Linked DNA regions of Homo sapiens. The main gene of each other region encodes a partner of the protein of the gene in region 2 in a complex. Each region holds a gene or a part of one and is shown on either strand. Other genes may lie near its edges. A codon is read from its position in the direction of its gene.

What was found.
Region 1: the proteins of MYH9 (region 2) and S100A4 are in contact, whole or in part, in an NMR structure (PDB 2LNK), measured with the Homo sapiens proteins. Residues at the interface, in NP_002464.1 of Homo sapiens: Thr1906, Ala1909, Met1910, Glu1913, Val1914, Ser1915, Leu1917, Lys1918, Lys1920, Leu1921, Arg1922, Asp1925, Leu1926, Pro1927, Phe1928, Val1929, Val1930, Pro1931, Arg1932, Met1934, Ala1935; in NP_002952.1 of Homo sapiens: Leu38 (codon at 2,282), Ser44 (codon at 2,264), Phe45 (codon at 2,261), Leu46 (codon at 2,258), Gly47 (codon at 2,255), Lys48 (codon at 1,522), Arg49 (codon at 1,519), Thr50 (codon at 1,516), Asp51 (codon at 1,513), Ala54 (codon at 1,504), Phe55 (codon at 1,501), Lys57 (codon at 1,495), Leu58 (codon at 1,492), Asn61 (codon at 1,483), Leu62 (codon at 1,480), Ser64 (codon at 1,474), Gln73 (codon at 1,447), Glu74 (codon at 1,444), Cys76 (codon at 1,438), Val77 (codon at 1,435), Phe78 (codon at 1,432), Ser80 (codon at 1,426), Cys81 (codon at 1,423), Ile82 (codon at 1,420), Met84 (codon at 1,414), Met85 (codon at 1,411), Cys86 (codon at 1,408), Glu88 (codon at 1,402), Phe89 (codon at 1,399), Phe90 (codon at 1,396).

Annotation. Positions count from the first base shown.
Region 1 is NC_000001.11:153,542,402-153,550,126, forward strand, and holds S100A4 (protein S100-A4), read right to left. Parts: upstream 3,406-7,725; 5' UTR 3,352-3,405; exon of another isoform or gene 3,341-3,351; intron 3,118-3,340; exon of another isoform or gene 3,069-3,117; intron 2,409-3,068; 5' UTR 2,394-2,408; coding exon 2,253-2,393; intron 1,523-2,252; coding exon 1,358-1,522; 3' UTR 1,220-1,357; downstream 1-1,219. Other genes in the region: S100A5 (protein S100-A5), read right to left, coding at 839-860; S100A3 (protein S100-A3), read right to left, coding at 5,281-5,445, 5,944-6,084. UniProt on the Homo sapiens protein: Calcium-binding protein that plays a role in various cellular processes including motility, angiogenesis, cell differentiation, apoptosis, and autophagy.
Region 2 is NC_000022.11:36,293,546-36,301,547, reverse strand, and holds part of MYH9 (myosin-9), read left to right. Parts: coding exon 1-14; intron 15-490; coding exon 491-697; intron 698-1,283; coding exon 1,284-1,421; intron 1,422-2,505; coding exon 2,506-2,629; intron 2,630-4,533; coding exon 4,534-4,705; intron 4,706-5,830; coding exon 5,831-6,043; intron 6,044-6,471; coding exon 6,472-6,616; intron 6,617-7,249; coding exon 7,250-7,456; intron 7,457-7,684; coding exon 7,685-7,789; intron 7,790-8,002. UniProt on the Homo sapiens protein: Cellular myosin that appears to play a role in cytokinesis, cell shape, and specialized functions such as secretion and capping. Required for cortical actin clearance prior to oocyte exocytosis. Promotes cell motility in conjunction with S100A4.

The DNA.
Region 1 (7,725 bases), on a different chromosome or scaffold from region 2:
GTGGAGGCCCCAGGGAGGGCGCTCCCAGGGAGGGTGGATGGAGAGGGCAGCGGAAGGCAGCAGACTTTCTCCTGAACTGAAATTCCTCCCAAGTCTCTGTATTCAAACCCTGCGGGAACATCTGAGTCACCTGCCCCACTCCTCTGAAACCTGAGAGAAAAGCCCCATGTGATGAGAGGAAAGAGGACCCTCAAGAGGAGGTCAGTGGGACAAAGCCCTCCAGCCTCTGCACCTGACCTCCATGCACCTCTTCCTAAAAGATCCCTGAGTCACCCAGACATGGCCTTGAAGTCTAACCTCAACCCACCACTGCACCCTGGAGCCACTGGCCTTGAACCTACCTAAGGGGAAGCAATATCATGCCTTATATTTTCTGGGGGGAAAATAATCTCAATTTCATTTGTCAGATCATATATGTGGAATTTTGTCTCCAAAACTATGGTCACCTTCCCACCATTTGCCTCACTCCCACTCCAGCCACTGACCCCCACTCATCTCTTCTGAGGTCCCCTGTCCTTCTCTGAAGGAGCTTGATTCCTGACTGATAACAGATCTCATCCAGGGACCTTTATGGCAGAGACGGTGGATTCGAGAATGCCTATATTCTCATGCTGCTGCAAACAGCGGGTCTCCCTCCACATTGCCCTCCCTGATCCTACCACGCACAGGAAAGGATTAATCCATCCCTGTGGTTTGAAGCCAATGATCTGGAAGTGGGTGGCAGGACAGGGCCTGGACTGTCAACGTCAGCACTGAGTGCCAGCCCTCCTCCCCATCCCACTCTCGCCTAAATACTTCCTCCCTGCAACTCAGCCTTATTCTTTTCCCTCCGACTTACTCCCAGGACACCCAAACTCCATTCCAGACCCCAACCAGGAACAGATATGACCTTCAATTCCAGCCTCGGTTCAAGATCCTGCCAGAGGCAAGGTTGGAGAGAGGTGGGAGGGGTAAGTGGGCTGGCTGAGATCCCACAGCTGGGACCTTCCAAACCTTGGCAGGGGGGTGGTGAGGGGTCCCCTTCTCGGCTTTGACCACACCGAGTGAACTCTATTGCCTGTGCACACACACTGTTAGTCACCCTGCATCCCTCCCCTAACTTCACTGGTCTGCTGTCCATAAAACTTCAGCTCAACTCCCAGCTCTCCCCACCACCACCCCACAACATATCCCTCAGTCCCCAACCCACGCCCCCAGAGTCTCTCAAACCATCAGCCTCAAAACTTCCAAGAATCTTTATTGAACTTGCTCAGCATCAAGCACGTGTCTGAAGGAGCCAGGGTGGAAAAAAAAAAGTGCCCACTGGCGACAGGGAGGGCCCCAGCTGGCAGACCCCCCAACCACATCAGAGGAGTTTTCATTTCTTCCTGGGCTGCTTATCTGGGAAGCCTTCAAAGAATTCGTTACACATCATGGCGATGCAGGACAGGAAGACACAGTACTCTTGGAAGTCCACCTCGTTGTCCCTGTTGCTGTCCAAGTTGCTCATCAGCTTCTGGAAAGCAGCTTCATCTGTCCTTTTCTGGAGGGAGAAGAGGCTACAGATAGAAAACAGAAGCCCAGTGGGTGGAGCCAGGACCAGACCCAGTTTCTACTCCCAGACCAGAGTTCAGGGAGGCTCCTTTGGGAGGTCCAGTTTGGAACTCCAACCCTCAAGGCTAAGCTAGGGTGGAGAAGGTGCTCCTTGGATAAGGAAGTCTGAGTACCTGGTGCAATGGAAAAATGACGGGACCACTACATTTTCACCCAAGGTTGTTCTAATAATCCCATGAGGTAGTAATAGTCATGAAAACAATATATAAACTGTGTTATGTTTGATACAAATATACATTGTTATTGTTTGAAGGGAACGTCTGCAGGCCTGTGATCATCTCCACATCTGTGTCTTCACATCTACAAGCCAAATAGAAACTCAAACAGTGTCCACTGTTGGAGTGATGGCAAGAGTCAGACAGTCCCGGTCCGGATGGCAGTTGTGTACACTGACCACCTTGGGAAGTTACTTAGCACTCTGAGCTTAGTCTTCCCTTCAGTTAAGTTGTGCAAAGCACCTGGCAGTGTCTGACCCATTCATTCTCAGCCCTCTTTCAGCATGGGGCCAGGCAGTGAGTGGTGGTGTTCAATGTGTTTCCACCCCAGGCAGCCACCCCACTGATAGATGCCCTCTGTAGCTAATGCTCTAGAGCAAGACTGCTGCCCTCCTCTGTGGGAAATGCCCCACGTGGGGACTCACTCAGGCACTACCCACTCACCCCCAAGAAGCTGGGCAGCTCCCGGGTCAGCAGCTCCTTTAGTTCTGACTTGTTGAGCTTGAACTTGTCACCCTCTTTGCCCGAGTACTTGTGGAAGGTGGACACCATCACATCCAGGGCCTTCTCCAGAGGGCACGCCATGACAGCAGTCAGGATCTGGGAGCAGGAGGCACAGAGACCGTCTTATTAATCCCACCCCTCAGAGATGTGTTCAGAATGCCAGGCTCCACTCCCATCCCTCCAGGAGCACTTGGCGAGACTCTGCTCCCTCCCTGGGGGAGCCCAGAGCAGTGGGCCCCCGCACCTGGCTGGGAGGGTGTGCACAGTGGGGAACACATGCTCTGGGCAGTGAACATTTGCAAGATCCGCTGCGCAAGCTCTGGAGATTCGGGCAGCAAACTCCCAGGGCCTCCCAGGCCTTGCCTCAACAACAGCATTTTTTCCACCCCTCACTCAGTCTATCCACTCCCACAGCTCAGCCACAAAGGCCCCGCCCTTGCCATTCTTTTCCCTCCCAGAACTGGGTGTGGCTGCTGGAGGCCTGCCCAGGGGCCTGCAGTGGAAAAAACCAGCACAGCCGCTTAGCTCTCAGCATGGGGAGGGGCAAAGTGAGGTGGCAGAGGCAAGGGTTGGAAGAGAAGCTGCAGAGGCCATGCACCTTCTCGAGCTGGGCTGCTGCGTGCAGGGCAGAGGCTCATGGGGCACACCACCAGACAAAGGCCCACAGTTGCCTTCTGCCTTTCCTTTGCTTCCTGCTCCCGAGTGCGCAACCCAGCAAACATGAGCCAGTGCAGATACCCACAGGCACATACATACCAACACGTACTATAGCAACAGCGTGTGCAAGCCCACATCTCAGAAGCACCTGGAGAGCTCAAATTCAGTCACTTGCTCACTTTTCTGTTTGTTTTTTCCTCCGTCTTACGTGCATGTGTGTGTGTGCCATGCACACCCACGCACACAATCCACCCAGAGTTCCACATCAGAATCTCACATCTGGATCTCTTTAGCACATCTGGCCCCCACCAGCCTCCCCTTCTCCTTCCCCAGCCCTGGCCTCTGACACCCCTTGCATGCCAGTCAGGCCAACACAACTCACCAAACCAAGAAAGAAGAAGCGCTGAGGAGAGAGGGTTGTAGAGAGGGGAAGAATGGGGACGGCCCAGAGGTCTGACCTATTTATACCCCAGCCAGGCCCTGCCCATAGCAGGGGACAGGGGAGAGCGGATACTGCCTTCCTGCTGTGGGCTGATGCGGTAAGTGCCACAGCACCCTCCACCAGCCCAGCCGTGGAACCAAGCCTCCTGTTCCCAGGTGGGCACCCGTGGGTAACGGGTAAGCCCTAGCGGTTACTAGCAGGGGACTGGATGAGATGGGCACCACCCAGTGTACATAGCTCAGCCTGAGTTTTAGAGAGGTGGAGGAAGGGGCAGCCTGTGCCTGGAGCATGGGGGACAGGGAGTAGTCCCATGGGGACCTAGGAAAGGAGATGCAGGGGGTGGTGGGTGACAGGTGGGAGATTGCCCTGGAAATGTGGTGACACAAAAGCTAGGGGGGAGATGGGAGGATCGCCTGAGGCCAGGAGTTCAAGACCAGCCTAGGCAACATAGAGAGACTTCTGTCTCTATAAAAAGGAAAAACAATTTTTTTTTTTAATTAGCTGGGCAGCATGGCTGTAGCCTGTAGTCCCAGCTAGTCAGGAAGCTGAGACAGGAGGATCATTTGAGCCCAGGAGTTCGAGACTGCAGTTGGCTATGCTCAAGCCACTGCTCTCCAGCCTGAGCAACACAGAGGACCTTGTCTCTTAAAAAAATAAAGATTCAGAAACAAAAACTGGGGTGGGGATCCCCATGCCCGGTACTGTCTGCCATGCCAAGTAAGGCTCAGGGTCGGGGCGGGGGGATCTGGAGGGGAACAGGCTCACACCCAAAGGAGGCTCTGGGACCACCTCAGGAACGTCAGTGGGAAAGGTCCTGGGTGAGGTAGTGATGGAGTGGAGTGGCAGTGAGGCGTGGGGGCTCACGGATAGATCTCAGGTTCGGAGAGGGTATCAGGAGGGGCCATTTAAAGTTGGGATGAGTGTCAGGAATGAAGAATCCAGGTTGGGGTGGAGAGTTAGAGGTGAAATGGCATGAAATAGGGGAGTTATAATTCGGGTCAACCTCTCAGGGTGGGCTACAAACCCAGTGAGGGTTAGAAGTAGGGGGTTAAGGCCCTCAGGGGGCTGCGGCTTCAGGGATAGGGGCTAGCTCAAGTTATTCCCTTACCCCTCCATACAGAGCACCCCTTCCTGGCTGGGAGAAACACCTCAGACACCCTAATCCCATTAGTGCTGCTCTCTGGGCTCCCACAGCCCGAGGCAGGGAACAAACACCCCCACTGCACCCACGGCCCCACCCTCCTCCAACCATGAGCACTGAGTCCCAGGGGAAACTCAGGCAGTCCTCTCTCAAAGATCCCAAAGAAAGAGAGAGAGGAAGGGAGGACAGGGGTCCTTGTTTTGTCCCCACGCCCTCCTGCTGGACCCTGGAGGCCACTGCATTTCTGCAGGGTCTGCAACTTCCCTCAGGGAGCACCCTGCCCCTGCCCTCAGCTGCCTTCCCGCAGTGGAAAAGGCCAGAGAGGAGCAAAGAGCTCAGGAGACGCGTCCTCAGAGAAGAACCAAACAAAACCAAGCTGATGCCAGTTTTTTATTAGGAGTTAAATAGGCCCTTTCCCATCGTGGTCTCATTGGTGCACGCTCTGCTGAGCCTCGAGGGCCTCAGAGCAGATCCCGCCTCCTCCCATCCACAAGGGAGGCCACAGGGGTGCGGCAGGCAGGCTGGGCCCCAGAGTGGCTCTACCCCTCATTCGCTGGGCATCCTGAGGAAGGAGCCCTCACATCTCTGGGCCTCCTAGGTAAAATGGGTTAACTGATCGCAGAAGACCTGGGCAAGTCCAGATTGAAAGGGGTACAGGAGAGAGGGTAGGAGGGGGTGTGGGAGACATGCCCAGCCCCCGACAGCCAGCGCACCCCCTGGAGCAGAGGCTACTGGGAGCAGGGGGGCTCTGAGGGGCAGTCCTTGAAGTACTCGTGGCAGTAGAGACAGAGGCAGGCAAGTGAGCGCACATACTCCACAAAGTCCACCTCGCAGTCCTTGTTGGTGTCCAGAACACTCATGAATTTGTTGTAGTCACATTCCCGAAACTCAGTCTGTGCAAGGGAAGGGTTGGGAGAGGTAAGGGAGTAGGATGAGGAGGGCAGAACAGCCTCACACGCCACCTCCCTCCTTCCTCTCCCAAGTGGACCCACCCCACCCCAAACTACACCCTTCTGAGGGCCGACTTCAACCTCCCTGCTCTGATAATGCACTCGTTGCAATCCCCTCCCAAATCTGTCCTCTCAGATTATTAATCGAGCACCTACTATTTGCTACTGAGTGCCTACCAAGTGTTAGGCATTCTTCATGGTGCTCTCACTCAGTCCTCTCAACAGCTCTGCAAGGCAGCAGGGATGATTGTCATCCCATTTTACAGATGAGGAAGCTGAGGTTTCTGCTGTGTCAGTTCTCCCCCTCCCACTCCCTCCTCACAATCCAGCCCCCTCCCTTGCTGTCCTGTGCTCATGCTTGTTGTCCCCAGGTCTCTCTTTGCAGAGTCTAGGCAGTGCCTCCCCCCGGAGGAGGAGGGGACGGACACTCTGACTGCTCACCGGGGTCCAGGTGGCCAGCTCCTTCTGCAGCAGCTCCTTGAGCTCCGCCTGGCAGAGCTTGTATTTGTCCCCACAGCGCCCTGCGTATTCCTGGAAGGTGCACACGATGGCAGCTACCGCCTGCTCCAGAGGCCTGGCCATCCTCACTGTCACAGAACAAGGGTGTGGCTCACAGCAGAGTTCCAGGCCAGCCCCCCAGCTCACCTCTGCCCTCTGTGTTTCTCAGAGACTGTTCCCAGACCCATCTTAACCTCCATCAGGCTTCAGGCCCCGCAGTCTCCCCCTCCTCTGAGTAGCCCTCCCAGACCACACCAGCCCCTCCTAATTTATCCCCCTGCTGTCCTGTTGTTATTTCCCCATGTAGAGGTCTCATTGCCCCAACATCGCTGTAAACTCCTCAGAGAGACAGCATCCTACCCCACCACCCACACACCCCACCGTGGGGCTCCTTAAGCACTCTCAGATTATCTGCCACCTCTTCTTATCCCCAACACCCAGGGATGGCTCGGTCCCAGTCTGCCCCAGCCCATGAGATGCCCTAGAAGCCTCCCTCCCTGCAGGAACTTGCACAAGGAGAGCCTGGCCCTGTGCTTCTCTGCCCTCAGCCCTTGGAGAAGCTAGGCCTTAGCAGGGAGGGGCAGGTCTGAGAGGCGCCCCCACAGCCTCACCACCACTGCCCTCACCCTGCCTCCTGCCCTGAACTCGAGGAAGCTGCACCCAGAAGAAAAACTTGTGGGATCCTCTCTGCCTGTCGCCAGCTGTGCAACCTTGGTGAGCCATTTGTCTCTCTGGGTCTCAGGGGCGGGGCCTGATCTGTAAGTTGGGGTTCATCTCACCTCGCTGGCCCAGTCAGGAACCTGAACCAGATGGTCTCTTGAGAGTTGACCAGTTCGGGTGTTTACCAATCTGAGACTGGCCTCCCCTGAGGTTACCCTCCCGACCCCTGGGGGTTTTGAGCAGGGAGGTTCTGTATAGGGATACTCTGTTCTATTGGAGGGGAAGCCCTTCCTGGAATTGCTCACCTCCCCCCACTTCCACTGTCCCCTTCCACCGCCCTTCTGGGATGATGCCTCCAGCCTGGGAAAACCCGAAGGCAGCCAGGAAGGCAAGAGTTTTTTCCATGCTAGCCCAGTGACTCACTCCTGATTCCCCCACGGGACAAGAGTCCTGCAGCACAGGGCGGCCAGGGCCAAGACTCTCCCTGAAGATTTGCCCACTGCTGGGCCCCCTGCTGGGAGCAAATGGCTGGCATGGTTGTGGCTGGCAGGAAAGTAGGGGAAGGGGAGTGGGGAGTGCCAAGCACTGCCAGGATTTAATTCATTGTAAACACCCCAGGATTAGAGCAAGGTGTCCAGGTTCCCAGGAGAGGAAAGGGCCATGATCCTCAGAAATGAGGAGACTCAGAGGTGAAGCAAGGAGGCAAGGAGCAGGTGAGGGGCCTGATCAAGGGGAAGACCAGAGCCTTGAGCCCAGTGCTCCCACCCCAAGGCAGACCTTAGCTCTACACACCTCCCTGCCCAAACTTCCCCAACAGCCCCTCACTGTGTAAGGAAACCTCTGCGTCCACTATATCTGACTTCCCTCCCCGTGTCAGGCCCGCCTGTGGTCATCTCTCTGCTTCCAATGCCAGACCCTGGGTCAGGAGTCAGGCTGGCTACTGGGGGTCCCCAAACTGCCCTGACACTCAACCCAGGGCAGGACCCAAGCAGCTGGCACTCACCACTGGTGCTGGCGTTTCAGCTGTAGGAGCTTAGAGACAGGGCGTCACTATTTGTAGCCTCC
Region 2 (8,002 bases):
CGCTGCAGTCTCAGGTGGGTGTCAGTGCAGGCTCAGTCCAGGTCGCACGACCTGCCTGGTGCTGCCACCTGCTGGCCATCGGTAGGCACGGCATGCTGGAAGTTTCTATTACTATAGGAGTTTTCTACAACTGAGTTTCCTATTACTGTAAACAGTGACCAGTCTCTCTGCAGACCCCATTGGGTGTTAAGTGATGTAGGGAGGCCACTTAATAGAGTGGAACGTTCACAAGTGTTGGGTTCAAACCTCAGCTCTACCACATGACTTGAGCCCATTTCCTGGGACCTTGCTCTGGAGCTCATGGGGTAGTGAAAAATCAAGGACACGATGTCTGGAAGGTACCTGGAAGCTTCAGAGCTCTCCAGATGAAAGCTACTTTTGTCTGCATGTTCCTTTCCCTCTGGGATCCCGAGCCATGGCGTCCGTCCTTGAGGATGGAGTGGCTTGAGGGTGTTGCGAGGAGCTTGTGTTTTCCACTTGTTGTTTGCAGCTCATGGCAGAGAAATTGCAGCTGCAGGAGCAGCTCCAGGCAGAAACCGAGCTGTGTGCCGAGGCTGAGGAGCTCCGGGCCCGCCTGACCGCCAAGAAGCAGGAATTAGAAGAGATCTGCCATGACCTAGAGGCCAGGGTGGAGGAGGAGGAGGAGCGCTGCCAGCACCTGCAGGCGGAGAAGAAGAAGATGCAGCAGAACATCCAGGTTCCTGCCCGCTGCACCCGGGGAGGGGTGGCGCCGGAGGGGCAGGGCGGGGCGGAGGAGCAGGAACCAGGAGCTGGGAGAACATGGAATTAGGGTCCAAGGAGGCTGCTCCTCACGCAATCTGCTTGGGGCTCTCAGTGAGAGGTGTTCCCTTTGGGCTGGTAGTTTGTGACATGTGCATCTGAGATCTCCATGAGCACTGCCTGGGCCAGCATCAAGGCCAATTTGATTTCCCTGCCATTAGCCCTGGCCCTGGCTAGCCGAAGGGGCACAGGGCCAGCACCTCTGCGTCCTGCCTGTTTCATGGGTGGGAGCTTGCTGCAGGAAACCCTTCAGAACATTGCACCGATGTTCTGGCCCTGTGTCCCAGTTTGAAATCTGGAATCCTACAAATGGGGCTTGGGCCCTGCCTCGGCTGTGGCCCTGGGCTGGCGGACCTTGCCGTCCCCACCTCAGCCATGGCCCTGGGCTCACAGACCTTGCTATTTTCTCCTTGGCGTTTGGATCTGGCCTTCGGACCTTGCTGCCTTCACCTTGGCCATGCCTCTGGGCCTGCTGTCCTTACCGTGTCTCTGGCCCCCGGCAGGAGCTTGAGGAGCAGCTGGAGGAGGAGGAGAGCGCCCGGCAGAAGCTGCAGCTGGAGAAGGTGACCACCGAGGCGAAGCTGAAAAAGCTGGAGGAGGAGCAGATCATCCTGGAGGACCAGAACTGCAAGCTGGCCAAGGTGAGGCCCGTGGCTGTCGCCTGCCGCTGCTCCAGGGGCGCCGTGGATGGGAGAGTGTGGTCACCCTTGCAGGGCCTGGCTCCCCGCTGCTGCTGCTTCCTGTCTCTTCTGCCTGCAGCATGAGGGCTTCTGCTTAACTGCAAGTGCTCCCTGGAGGTCCCATGGGCCTTAGTTGAGGGATTTCCTCATAAGCAAAGGGGCCCTGGGGAAGGGTTTGTCCTTTCCCCTCTGGAAAGCTCTTCTTTGCCAGCCGTGAGACCCGAGCCTGTGTAAAGGTGGCCATCTGTGCAGCATTGCAAGTGTTGGTCACTGTGGGGTTGGGGACACCTTGGTGGCTCTGTGTTGAGATACGGGGTACTCTTCCTCCACTGTCCCTGGGCGGCAGCTATTCCTCTTGAGAATGAGTTGGGTCCCTGTCGGTGTCTGCCCAGGGAGCAGATAGCAGCCGGGGAACCAGTTAGAGGAGAAGGCAGGAGAAGGCAGCCTCCCCACCTTTCGGGCCTCCTCAGAACATGGGAGCCCCAAAGGCTGGGGAGGCTGAGGTGGCAGGACGCCCACCCGGGACTGGGATGAGGGGACTCAGGTGCTTGTGCCGAGCTGTGGCCGCTGGGCAGGGGTGTTGCAGGGGCCACACAGAACAGAAAGCAAGGAGAGCAGCCCGGGGCACCGCGGGGCTGAAGAGGGGGAGGGGCCGTGGCCCACCTGGCAGGTGAGAGAGGGGCACGGAGAAGGTGGCCTGGTGGCGCAGGTGAGCGCCGTGTGGCAGCCTCTTGAAGGAGTGGAGCCATCTGTCCCTGCTGACACTAGCTGTCACCTGGAATCCTTTCTCACCCAAGCCCACAGGGGAAGGGGAAGGGCTTGGGCACCCACATTTTTTGGTTCTAAGGAAGCGTACCTCGCTGTTTCAGGGGAGCTCGTGACCTTTCAAAATTATCCTTTGATCTAGGAAAATCCTAATGAACTTGATCAAGCGTCTAAAGCCCTCTCCATTCAGCCCCAGATTTCCGGGCGAGTCATGCTTTGAGGCTAGCAAGTGTTCTGTGCTCAACCAACACTAAATGCCAGCCTACTCCCCTCTCCCCAGGAAAAGAAACTGCTGGAAGACAGAATAGCTGAGTTCACCACCAACCTCACAGAAGAGGAGGAGAAATCTAAGAGCCTCGCCAAGCTCAAGAACAAGCATGAGGCAATGATCACTGACTTGGAAGGTGAGGGGGTGACGAGCAGGAGGTGATGGGCAGGGGCTGGCGGGCAAGGGCTGGCGGTCAGGGGCCGGCCTGTCTGACCGGAACACCGAGGCCTTCTCAGCTCACGGGTGAGCCTGGGTCACACTACAGCACTGGCTGCTGCCCTTTAGACCTGAGGTCACCAGGTCGAGGGGAGCCGTGTCTGGTGCCTGCGGGAACCTGAGCCTCCAGGCCCCTGTTGCTCTGTGGCTAGATGCCCCCACTGCATGAAGCGTGTTTAGAGAGCTTTGGCATTGCTCTGTTGTGTGCCGTGGGTTTTGGAAGCTTCTGAGACTTCCTAGGAGGCTCCGGGTTTGACCCACAGGACTCACTAGCTCTGTCACTGACTAGCTGGCTCATCTTGCAGCTATGACTTAAGCTCCATGAGCTTTAGTTTTACCTAAAAAGGGGACACAGTGCTAGGGTGTCTGTGAGAATTTCATTAAATACATGTGAACACATATGTACCGTAAAGTCCTAGACGAATACTGCGGAAGTTCATTGCTTGACTTGGGGCAGGGTGACAAATCCTGCCTTGTCTCTGTGTGCCCTCGGGATCTGTGGCAGGGAGGGGGTGCTGGGGTAGAAGCACAGGTCCGTGGCTGTCTGAGGACCCCCAGCCCTGCCCCTTGAGAGGAGTGGACAGCTGGGGGAACAGGGGAACCCCGACTACTCTGGGAACTCTGAGCTCATACCCAGGGGAGGGAGACCAAAACCTGACCACCGGGAGGATTATCCCCAGCTTAGTTTCACAGTCTTGTCCGGCCCCCTCACATCTGCAGGGGATGAGGTGAGTCAGGTCCAGCAGAAGAGAGGTCCGGACACAGAGAGATCTCTTCCCTCACAGACACCCTCCCTCACCTGGGAGGAGCCCGGAAGACTTGGTCATCTAGGAGGTCTAGGGGTTGCCTTGCACCCACCAGATGGACAGACATGAAAGGTTGACACTAATAAGGGCTAACATAGACACGGAGCTGTCAGAGCACACATATGCTGCTGCTGGGACTGCAAACTGGTAGACGGCGTTAGAGAACGATCCGGCAGTCCTAGTGAGGTTGAAACTTAGCATGCCGGTGACCTGGCCGTTCCATCCGTCACTCAGCCGTGTGCACTGAGAGTGAGCAGGATGCTTGCAGCAGCGTTGATCAGAGCGTGCGATGAACACAGCCGCATGCCCGCCAGCTGCAGGACGGGTACATAAGTAAGTTGTGGTGTATTCTCATAATGGAATCCTAGACAAATGTCCTTACACATCTATTCCAGCGAAACTTCACGGGCTACATCTCAAGATCACGTGATGGGGTGGCAAAGGCACGGCAGGGAATAACCATCACGAGGCAGGCACTGTTCTAGGTGCTTTTTAAGATAGTAACTCATTGGCGCCTCACAGCATCCTAATGAAGTAGGCTGTCTCCTTTTGCTTATTATTCAGATGAGGTATAGAAAGTAGCTTTCCCAAGTGACATCACAGAGTTATAAAGCTAGACATAGAGCCCTGACCGTGCGATTCCAACTGTGGAATTCACACAAGGCAGTTCCATTATATAAGTTCAGATTCACACACAATTGAACATGTTTTTTAGAGATACAGACATGGTACAGCCTTCAAGGGAACCAAGGGAATTACAAACACCAGCTTTAGGAGAGTACTTAATTCCTGGCAGGGAAGGACAAGGGGTGAGTTGGAGAGAGACATGCCAGGGGCTAGCAGTTTGCAGTGATGTCCTCTTCCTGCATCCAGGAGTTGGGTGCGAGTGTCTGTGTGTTTGTGATGCTTTAAGCCTGACACACGTTTCATAACGAGTGCTCAGTATTTTGTATAAGTAATTGACACGGAGACAGAACCCATGGCACTGAGGGCTATGTGGGCTCCCCCTGCATTGCAGAGCGCCTCCGCAGGGAGGAGAAGCAGCGACAGGAGCTGGAGAAGACCCGCCGGAAGCTGGAGGGAGACTCCACAGACCTCAGCGACCAGATCGCCGAGCTCCAGGCCCAGATCGCGGAGCTCAAGATGCAGCTGGCCAAGAAAGAGGAGGAGCTCCAGGCCGCCCTGGCCAGGTGAGGACCCCGCCTGCCCGCCTGAGGCCAGGTGGCCTGGGCCAGCCCTTCCTGCTTGCTGCTGGCCCTAGTTCTCGGCACTAGTGAGCTGTGAGCATTCTTTCCACTGTTGTCTTAAAAGAGCCATTTATTTCATAGCAAAACAGTTCTTGTGCACTCAGGGCATGGTGAGGGGCCTCATTTGTCTTTTGTTTGTTTATAATTTGAAAAAAAGTCATCCACAGCTCTATCACCCACCTACAATAGTCCTTTCCTAATTTCTTGCTATAGGCACACTTAAAAAAAAAAAAAAAAAAAAAAAAGACTTGACCAGGCACGTTGGCTCACGTCTGTGATCCCAGCACTTTGGGAGGCCAAGCCGGGTGGATCACTTGAGGTCAGGAGTTCGAGACCAGCCTGGCCAACATGGTGAAACCCCCATCCCTACCAAAAATATAAAAAATTCGCCAGTGTGGTGGCACACGACTGTAATCTCACCTACTCAGGAGGCTGAGGCAGGAGAATCACTTGAACCCAGGAGGCAGAGGTTGCAGTCAGCCAAGATCGTGCCATTGCACTCCAGCCTAGGTGACAGAGCGAGACTCTGTTTAAAAAAAAAAGAAAGAGACTTTATTTTTTAGAGTAGTTTTAGATTCACAGAAGAGTCAGCAGAAGATTCTCCATCTATCCACTGCCCCACTCACGCACCGCCTCCCCTGCAGTCAACATCCCCTACCACAGTGCTGTGTCTGTTCTAATTGGTGAACCTACGTTGACCTGTCATAACCATCTAAAGTCCGTAGCACATTCGTATTTTTACTGAGTTGCAGTTGTCCTGTGGTGTAGCGTTTTATTTCCTTTTCTTCCCATTTAACACATCATTTGACTTTTAAAAATATTTGAAGCAGTGAATCTTACTTTGGAAATTGAAACGATTCCTCTATGAGGTTTTCTGCTTCTCAGAGGGGTGTTGCCCTTCAATCTGGTTGTCTCAGATGTTGTTTCTGCTGAGAGCCATCCTAAGTGCCATGATTGTGACCACAGGAGGCAGCTTTGGCTGCTGCAGCTCTCTCAGGCCTGTCCTGCAAACTCTGCTCCTTGGAGGTGAAACTCTCCTTATACTGATGTTGCTGGTCGCTTTGGCAGAGTGGAAGAGGAAGCTGCCCAGAAGAACATGGCCCTCAAGAAGATCCGGGAGCTGGAATCTCAGATCTCTGAACTCCAGGAAGACCTGGAGTCTGAGCGTGCTTCCAGGAATAAAGCTGAGAAGCAGAAACGGGACCTTGGGGAAGAGCTAGAGGCTCTGAAAACAGAGTTGGAGGACACGCTGGATTCCACAGCTGCCCAGCAGGAGCTCAGGTGTGCCCTGGGACCAAGTCCCTCGGGATGGGGAGGGCAGCCAGGGGGGCCTTGGCTTGGAGACATGGACCCCGGGCCTCTGCACACACACACACACACACACCGTGGCCCTCTTAGGCACCAGCAGGCATGGAAGCTGCTGGTTCCTCAGCGGTTTCTCTCTACAGAGTAGAAAGTCTGTTGAAGGACCTGGCTCAAAGTTGGGGGTGAGGCAAGGCTGGGCTTTAAAGCTGAAAGGCTACAGAAGCTCTCACAGGGCGTATTTGAGCCTGGGCTATGGGATAGATGGCTAGGAGGGGCCGGTGGGTAGAAAAGCTGCCTGGAGTGCCTGTGCCCTGGCCAGGCCTCTCTTTGGTCAGGGAAGAGCCCCAGGGACAGCCTCGCTCCAGCATCCCCGGCCTCCACTCTGAGGGGATTTCTCTGTCCAGGTCAAAACGTGAGCAGGAGGTGAACATCCTGAAGAAGACCCTGGAGGAGGAGGCCAAGACCCACGAGGCCCAGATCCAGGAGATGAGGCAGAAGCACTCACAGGCCGTGGAGGAGCTGGCGGAGCAGCTGGAGCAGACGAAGCGGGTGCGGAGCCTCCCTGAGACCGCAGGGGGAGGGCAGGGTTCCCCGTGCTGGGCCCACAGAATCCAAACCAGTCCTGCAGAGCAGTTGCAGGGTTCTACCCAACTGCCTGGTTCTGAGGCCAGGCTCCCCTTCTAAGGGGCTTTGTGACTCGTGCCTCAGTTTCCCTGTTCATAAGGGAGGATTATGGTATGTCTGTCTCGTGATTATTTGAGGGTGAAAACATTACATCGTTACTTTGAACATCAGACTTCAGACAGGCTTTATTGGAAGTCTAACTGCAAACAATTATAGTTCCCCTTATTGCGTTACAAATATTGCTAACATCTGCAACACCAATGCCATGCCCTAGAACCTGGCCTCTACCCAGGGCAGAAGGCTGGGCAGGTATTATTTTAGAGATGGGGAAGCTGTGAGATGTCCTAAGCAGTGAAGACAGGAACCAAGTGTCACCCACCAGCTAAGAGAGAAGAGGACAGGACAGATGAGGCCCGAGCCGTCTGAGTCCAGGACGCAGGCACACCGTCGTCAGGGCTGCAGAAGCAGCGATGTCTGGATCTAGGGTCCAGTGATGATAGACCAGCCAGCCTTGTGTCAGGAGGCCCCCACTCACGTCTTTGCTTTCTTCCCTGCTAGGTGAAAGCAAACCTCGAGAAGGCAAAGCAGACTCTGGAGAACGAGCGGGGGGAGCTGGCCAACGAGGTGAAGGTGCTGCTGCAGGGCAAAGGGGACTCGGAGCACAAGCGCAAGAAAGTGGAGGCGCAGCTGCAGGAGCTGCAGGTCAAGTTCAACGAGGGAGAGCGCGTGCGCACAGAGCTGGCCGACAAGGTCACCAAGCTGCAGGTGAGGCCTCCGCCAGGACCCTGGCGCGGGCAGTGGGCCCTAGCAGCAGTTGTGGCCCAGGTCCCCAGGTGCATGTGTGCTCTCTGTCTCTCTCTCTTCTCAAACTGGCTCCTCAGACCCTCATGGTTCAGCTTGTGACTCAGGTCCAGCTTTACCTAAAGGAGATGAGGTGGGGCAGGAGCAGTGGGGGTGGGTCCATGGTCCTTTGTGTCTCCCCGCCCGGTGCAGGTGGAGCTGGACAACGTGACCGGGCTTCTCAGCCAGTCCGACAGCAAGTCCAGCAAGCTCACCAAGGACTTCTCCGCGCTGGAGTCCCAGCTGCAGGACACTCAGGTAGGGGTGGCGCCAGGTTCCCAGAAGGTGGACCCCTCCAGAAAGGCCTCTGTGTCCACGCAACATTAGCTTCAGAGCCCATCGGATTGCCCATCCTCTCCTTCATCTGCTTCATCCTGTGGGTGGGTCTCTGCGTCCTCCCAGCTCCCTCCAGGTCTTTACGTGGCCATCCCCTAAATCAGCAGGACCAGCTCCTCCCTCTCCTCAAGGGTG